2 linked regions of the Homo sapiens genome follow. The protein of the gene in region 2 purifies or fractionates together with the protein of the main gene of each other region. This does not show direct contact. Each region holds a gene or a part of one and is shown on either strand. Other genes may lie near its edges.

Region 1 (3,656 bases), on a different chromosome or scaffold from region 2:
CTACTGAATTTCAGTTGTACAGAACTCATTACGCTATGTCACACTTTTGGAATTTTCATGTATCATTTCCTTTGCCTAAAAGTCCCTCCAATTTTTACCTTCCTAAAAATAAAACTATCTACCACAGATCAGTTTATTATGATGTGCCAGGTTGTGAGATAATTAATATGTATACATTGTCTGAATGTTTAAACCATCCCAATGAAGTGGAGACTTCCATTATTTTAGAGGACCAATGAAACTGTTTCCCCAATATCAGCCAACTAGTGCTTCTTAAATCCAGGATTCAAATCAGATCTGTCTTATTCAGAACCCTTGCTCTTGAGCCCTATGTTCCCTGCCGCTAGACACATCTTTAAATCAATTAACACTAGTATTGTATCCTTTCTAGAGCTGTATGAATGCCTTTACCTTAATATCCTTCTGAAAATCTTCCAGTTACAAATGCAAGGGCATTGTTTAGGTTCTCCTTCCACTCGCTGGACTCTCTGAGTAATACATGAGGAACCTGGTGTTCCCAAAGCCTAAGCAAAATTATTTGCCTCTTTAGCAAACTCATTCTCCTCTATCCAGTTCCCACCTTGATGAAGCTGTGACTTCCACACACCAGTTTCAGCTTGCGGTCAACTGTTCTCAGTTGAAGGCAGAAGAGTCGAAGTTTATCTCCTTTCTCACACTTGATATTGTGCCATTTTCCACTCCCCACTACATCCATGGATCCTGTATTATCCTGTATTTCATAAATTGTGTTCTTCTTGTGTACGCTTTTCTGCAAAAGAAGATTAACATCCTGTTTCTGAGAGGATTGTTAGTATCATATAGATGAGAAAGAGTCTCATGACAAAGTTAATGCAATATGCACGACAGGAATGACAGGTACAGATCATACATGTGGCTTGGCCTGCCATCTCACAGGGTCCATCTTTTATTATCCAGCATTTTTTTTTCCTGCTTAAGGTATTTTTCTTTCTGCAATTATACAACAATAAATATTTCCCTCTTTTTCTCCTGCTACCACCTTCAGATCAGCTGAGAGTAAATAAAGCACCTAGATATAGAGGAATCAAAAATTCCTATAGAACTTCTTGGCTCATGGTCCTGTGGAAAAACAAATGTATGCTTTCTACAATTATTCATTCAGTAGATTATGAGGAATTTCACTTTATTATTATTTTAATTTTTAAAAATTTCAATAGCTTTTGGGGTACAAATGGTTTTGGGTTACATGGATTAATTATATGGCGGTGAATTCTGAGATTTTAGGGCAGCCATTACCCAAGTAGTGTACATTGTACCCAATATATAGTTTTGTATCCCTCACCTCCCTCCCAGCCTCCCGCTTCTGAGTCTTGAAAGTTTATTAGATCACTCTGTATGCCTTTGTGTACTCATAGCTTAGCTCCTCCTTACAAGTGAGAACATACAATATTTGGTTTTCCACTCCTGAGTTACTTCAGATTATGAGAAATTTTAAAGGAAAAATCTTCTATAACACAATCATTCATTCTTTCTCAGCCTTCCTCATTACTTATTCTTTTCCAATATCTTGTCCCCATTGACCTAACTCCCTCCATTCATACTCTGTAGTGTTTCACACACTTAAGCTATTACTCATCAATTCTGTAATTGCATTTATAAGCAAGATCTCTTAAAGAGAGTGTGAGAAAATGTGGAGGTAAATTTAAGGGGCTATATTGAAAGACATGTATGTAGGGTTATAAAGCAGTCAATCATATAAAATGTTAGTTGAGTTCATAGAAATGTGTAATGTTTTAGAGTGGAGAAAGGGATGGAATGCATTATCCTAACTAGCATCTTGAATTTGGACATGGACATATCAATAAAACTCTGTGCCTTGGAATTATTTTTTTTTTGTAAATAGTATGAAGAGATTGCCTTATCCTTTAAGTATCATGGAATTCAATATTTCTCAGTTGTTCAATGCTATCTTCATAAATAAATGAATAAATAAATAAGATAGAAGGGCAACTGATCTAAGCACAAATGTTTAGATTGTATGGATAGCTGTTGAATGTATTTGCATTTATGAGCATACCAGCCAATCCACTTATTACTCCAAAATTATGTCACAACCAGAATTCAACCTTGGTAGCACAATTCATTACTTAAAATAAATTTATCAAAACTCACAGTAAAATTATCAGTGCTCATTGGGATGGAGCTGAAAGAGATGATGTTATTAGCTTGCTCCCGTTGATTTGGACCCTGTATTGTCCTAGTTCATTGTGGCTGACAACAGATCATTACTGCCAATATTTCTTACTAACTTTTTTTCAAAGTCCCTACATTTATTTTGGCGTAAGAAAGTTAATAGGTCACTTAGTCCTATTTCCTATTTTGTGGGACAACTTCATCACTATCTCTAGTCAATATAAATTCTTGTGTTCCAATATTCAGACAGTAAGTCTGGCAAATTAAGACATTTATTTCCAGGTAATGGTAGAGAAAATTAAAACAAAATTAAGGGTTTACCTTTTGTAACATAAACAACCCATACACCATTGTTCCAGATGCTTGCTTGTAAAGTTGACTGATCTTGGGAGTTTTATTTGCTATTTCGATAATTCTGTTTGGGACCTCAAAATTTTGATTAAAGTCAGACACAGATGATGCTTCCTTTATTTCCATTACTCCTTTACATTCAGAGTAATCAGATATGGTAATGACCTTCTTCCTTACAAATTTCTCTTTCAAGTTGATGTCGAAGACTTTCACATGGAAATATTGAGTCTTACTGGCCACTGTAGCATGAAACATTGTGCTTTTCCCATTTTCTGGGGACTCGTATTTAAATGGCGCTGTTGCTTTCAGTACCACCACTGTCACTGGGTCGTTTTGGGGAACATTTCTTCTTGCATCCACCTGCCGTTGGGCCTGGGTTTCCTGATTCTGTGTTGGGCAGACACAAGAAAATAAACTTAAAACTTTGAGCAGGAGGCCGGGCGCGGTGGCTCACGCCTGTAATCCTAGCACTTTGGGAAGCCGAGGCGGGTGGATCACGAGGTCAGAAGATCGAGACCATCCTGGCTAACATGGTGAAACCCCCATCTCTACTAAAAATACAAAAAAAACTAGCCGGGCGTTGTAGCGGGCGTCTGTAGTCCCAGCTACTCGGGAGGCTGAGGCAGCAGAATGGCATGAACCTGGGAGGCGGAGCTTGCAGTGAGACCAGATCGCACCACTGCACTCCAGCCTGGGCGATAGAGCGAGACTCCGTCTCAAAAACAAACAAACAAACAAACAAACAAACAAACAACAACAAAAACTTTGAGCAGGAATACAAAGTCACTCTGCACGAGTGACTCTGCAGAGCTTTCGACCCAACAACTTTCACAGATATTTGGAGCTGGGGGCTAGGCTAGACAGGGATTACTGAACAGAAAGGAAAGGCACATGAGCTGGTAAAGTTTAGCTACTGAAAGCCTAAGGTAACAGACAACAGGCTTGGAAATTAAATCACCCTCATTGACTCAGAATAATCTTCCTGAAGCAAAGCATGATCTTCTGCATGAACAATCTAGAGTAGCAGATGATGAAAACATTGTTGTGAAGAAACTTTAAAGAAAGATTAGAATATAATAACAAATCCAAATATCTCCTCTACCTACTGAAATTATCAAAGACAATCAACAAAG
Region 2 (3,656 bases):
TTCAGCCTCCCGAGTAGCTGGGACTACAGGCGCCCGCCACCGCGCCCGGCTAATTTTTTGTAATTTTAGTAGAGACGGGGTTTCATCGTGTTAGCCAGAATGGTCTCGATCTCCTGACCTCGTGATCCGCCCACCTCGGCCTCCCAACGTGCTGGGATTACAGGCGTGAGCCACCGCGCCCGGCCGATCAAGTGTATTTTTTAACCTAGCAGACAGACAAGGATTTTTAAAATGTCATAATGTACAGTGCTGACAAGGGTGTGGGGAAAAGGCACCTGTCTCGTGTGAATTGCTACCACATTTCTGGAGGCTAGTCTGACTGACTGTATATTCAAACTTTAAATTTGGGTACCGTTTGGCCCAACAATTTGATTTCTAGGGGTTGATTCAAAGGAAATAATCAGACAAACTTCAGCCTCCAGTGCCTCCATTTCCTTATATTTAGAATGGGAGTATTATTTATCCAGTAGAGCTTTTAACATTGAATAAAATAAACCACATAAAATATTTAATATGGTGTCTGGCACATAGAAAAGTACCAGATAAATGTTAACTAAATAAATGTTATTCCCAATGATGTTCATTGAACATTGTTGTAATAGTAAAACTTGGCAGTAACCTAAGTGTTCATCCTTATAGAGACTGGTTGAATATACATATAGCACAGTACTATGCAGTTGTTACAAAAGACATCATAAAGATGGCTGCAATACATATTGTAAATGAAAACAAAAACAAGTTACAGGATAGGATGGGTACTGTCTCATTTGTTGAAACAAAACAACCTTAACATTGGGAACTGAAGATAGAAGATGGTATTATAGGGGACTTTTACTTTACTTGATATTCACTTACATATTGCTTTATTATAATGAACACTTACTACTTTTATAATCAGGAAAAATAGATATTCCCATTTATTTGGTCAAACAAAGCCAAAAATAAAATAAGCGTTAATTAATTGACCATATCGACCTTGCTGGGTTTAGAATGAAGCAGTTAGGAATCAGGACGCTGTGTTGGTTAGAGCTGCTTCTCCAGCAGGGTACTCCTGTCAGTGCACGTACTGCTTCACATGCCTGCTTTTGCTGCAATGTATTTCTTTAAAGTAGTTCTTCAAAACTGGTATTACTTGGAAACCAACTAGCACCATGTTTTTGTTGCACTCATCTTTTAGGATAAAGAGCAAGTAAACTACTAAAGGGATTTCTTTAGAAATCAGTTTCCTGGGGATAACTATGGTCTGATAGACTCAGTCCATTTCTTATACTGTCTACAGTATTGTACAAAGAGAGCTGAAGTTCTCAGTTATGTCTCTGAGGCAAGTGAAATTAAAGAAAGGTTGCATTATTTTCAAATTCCTATACTTAGGAAAAAGTTTTTCAGGAACAAATCTTGAAATAGAAAGGGTTTTTGGTAAACCTGATAAATCCTACAAGAATGAATTCCCTAGTAACAGGATTATATTTTACAGCTTTTATCTCCCTCAGTACTTCGTACTATGAATTTACCTGCTTTCCATTTATCAGGCAAATTAAATTTCCTAGAAAAACTTCATTCATCAAGCTTTCTTGTTAATGTAGACTTAATTTTTAAAAATATTTTGCAATAATTCATCCTATATTGGGTTCATTTCACTGACTATAGCATCTCATAATGGATGGATAGTATGAATAAGTACTTAATGTACATGCTTGCATTTTCAATTTTTTTAACTCTTTGAAATATGCCAAGACAGACGTTGGTTGCATGAAAATATTGTTCACTTAAAACTAGTCAATGAAATTCACAGTATCCATTGAAATAACAGGGAATACCCAGGATTGTCAGAGAAAGTTGTAAATCACTACTCTGGGGGAGATGTACCTACCTTGGTGCTATAAACAGCCCTTACCTTGAGGAAAAGTATAAGCATCTTTAGCATCTTCCTGGTGTGCTTTAGGATCCTGGCCTTGGGGCCCACCTGTTTCTTGGTGTGGTTCTGGAAAGCATTCTTTAGGCACATCCTTATTTTTATATGTCTCAGTAGAGAGGTCTTCAGGCCCCGGTGTTTCTTGGTATATTTCAGGTGAATATTCTTCAAGCTGGGATGTTTCTTGGTATATTTCAGGTGAATATTCTTCAAGCCCAGGTATTTCTTGATACGTTTCAGGTGAATATTTTTCAGACCCAGGAGTTTCTTGGTTTATTTCAATTGAATAGTCTTCAGAATGAGGTGTTTCTTGGATTGTTTTATGAGAGGGGGCTTTAGGCACAATAATTTCGTTACATGTTTTATGAGGAAGGTATTTAGGTTCAGCTGATTCTTGGTGTGTTTTTGTAGAAAGGTCTTTAGGCTCAGCTATTTCTTGTATTTTAGGAAAAAGGCCTTCTGTCTCAGCTATTCCTTGATCTGTTTCATTGTATTCCTCTGGTTCTGCTGGATTTTGGTCTGTGTCAAGAATATAGCCTTTAGGCACATCTGGTTTTGGATATGCTTGAAGAGAGCATCCTGCCAGATCAGCTGTGTCTTCAGATGTTGGACAAGGAAGGATTTTGGGTACAGCAGCTTCTTGGCACATTTTAGGAGCCAGATCTTCTCGTTTAGCCATATCTTGGTACATTTTGAAAGGATGGTCTTGAATTACAGATATTACTTGGCATGTGTTAGGAGAGTTGTCTTCAGGTTCCTTCATGTCTTGGCATATTTTGGAAGAATTGTCTTGAAGTACAGATATTTCTTGGTACATTTTAGGAGAGAGGTCTTCAGGTTCAGACACATGTTGGCATGTTTCAGAAGAATGGTTTTGTACTGCTATTTCTTGGTACTCAGAAAAATTCTCCTGATATATGTTACTTTCTTGACATATTTCAGAAAAGTGTTCCTCAGGCACAACTTTTTGCGGGGAGGCTACTGAAGGAAATACTTTGGTTATGCTCCCAGGTGGCTCAGTTTTTTTCTCTATAGGTGCCAGTGCTTTCTCCACTATTTCCTTTTCTATCTGTGGCTGAGGCTCCACCTTCAATTCTGTGTTTTGTTGTCTCTTTCTGCCTCTTCGATTTCCTTTTCCTGTTCTCTGCTGCTTGCGTTTTTTCTGTTCTCTGCAGAAAGAACAGAATTAGTGTCAGCAGTGGTACTACAGAATTCAAATAAATGCTTGTAATAACAGTGCCAGGTCCCCCACTGCCTCATTGCACAAGTATCATGAACTAGTCACTTAATCTCTCTGGGCCTCAATCTCCTTGTTTGTAAAATGAAGGAGCAGCTCTAGATGTTCTCAATTCTTAGGAGAGGGAATGTTTCTCCAGGACTTCGTGGCATTGATACCATGCTTACCAGGAGCCTTCTTGGTGAGGGTAGTGCATGCGCGTATGCGTGCGTGCGTGTGTTATAGCATATTCTTAAAGTTTTGTTATGGAAAATAAATAATTCTCATTACAAATTAATAGAGTGGCATTCTGGTTTATACACTAGTCTCTTTGCATTTAGTCTTTGTGTGTTACTTCCCTACCCCTGAGTAAACTCATACAAATCGAGTTTCTAGACCTGGCACAGCTCCTCGTCTGTGCAGCCTGCAGGTGGATGCTGTATATGGCTTGATTATCAAATACATTATTTTGTGTAAAGAATTCTAAGTTGCTACAGTATATATCAAATGAGGTATACTGTAAGGGGT

What was found.
Region 1: the proteins of HEMGN (region 2) and MNDA purify together in Homo sapiens (co-immunoprecipitation; one study listed by IntAct). This does not show direct contact.

Annotation. Positions count from the first base shown.
Region 1 is NC_000001.11:158,844,841-158,848,496, reverse strand, and holds part of MNDA (myeloid cell nuclear differentiation antigen), read right to left. Parts: intron 2,911-3,656; coding exon 2,494-2,910; intron 770-2,493; coding exon 581-769; intron 1-580. UniProt on the Homo sapiens protein: May act as a transcriptional activator/repressor in the myeloid lineage. Plays a role in the granulocyte/monocyte cell-specific response to interferon. Stimulates the DNA binding of the transcriptional repressor protein YY1.
Region 2 is NC_000009.12:97,928,141-97,931,796, forward strand, and holds part of HEMGN (hemogen), read right to left. Parts: intron 3,082-3,656; coding exon 1,895-3,081; intron 1-1,894. UniProt on the Homo sapiens protein: Regulates the proliferation and differentiation of hematopoietic cells. Overexpression block the TPA-induced megakaryocytic differentiation in the K562 cell model. May also prevent cell apoptosis through the activation of the nuclear factor-kappa B (NF-kB).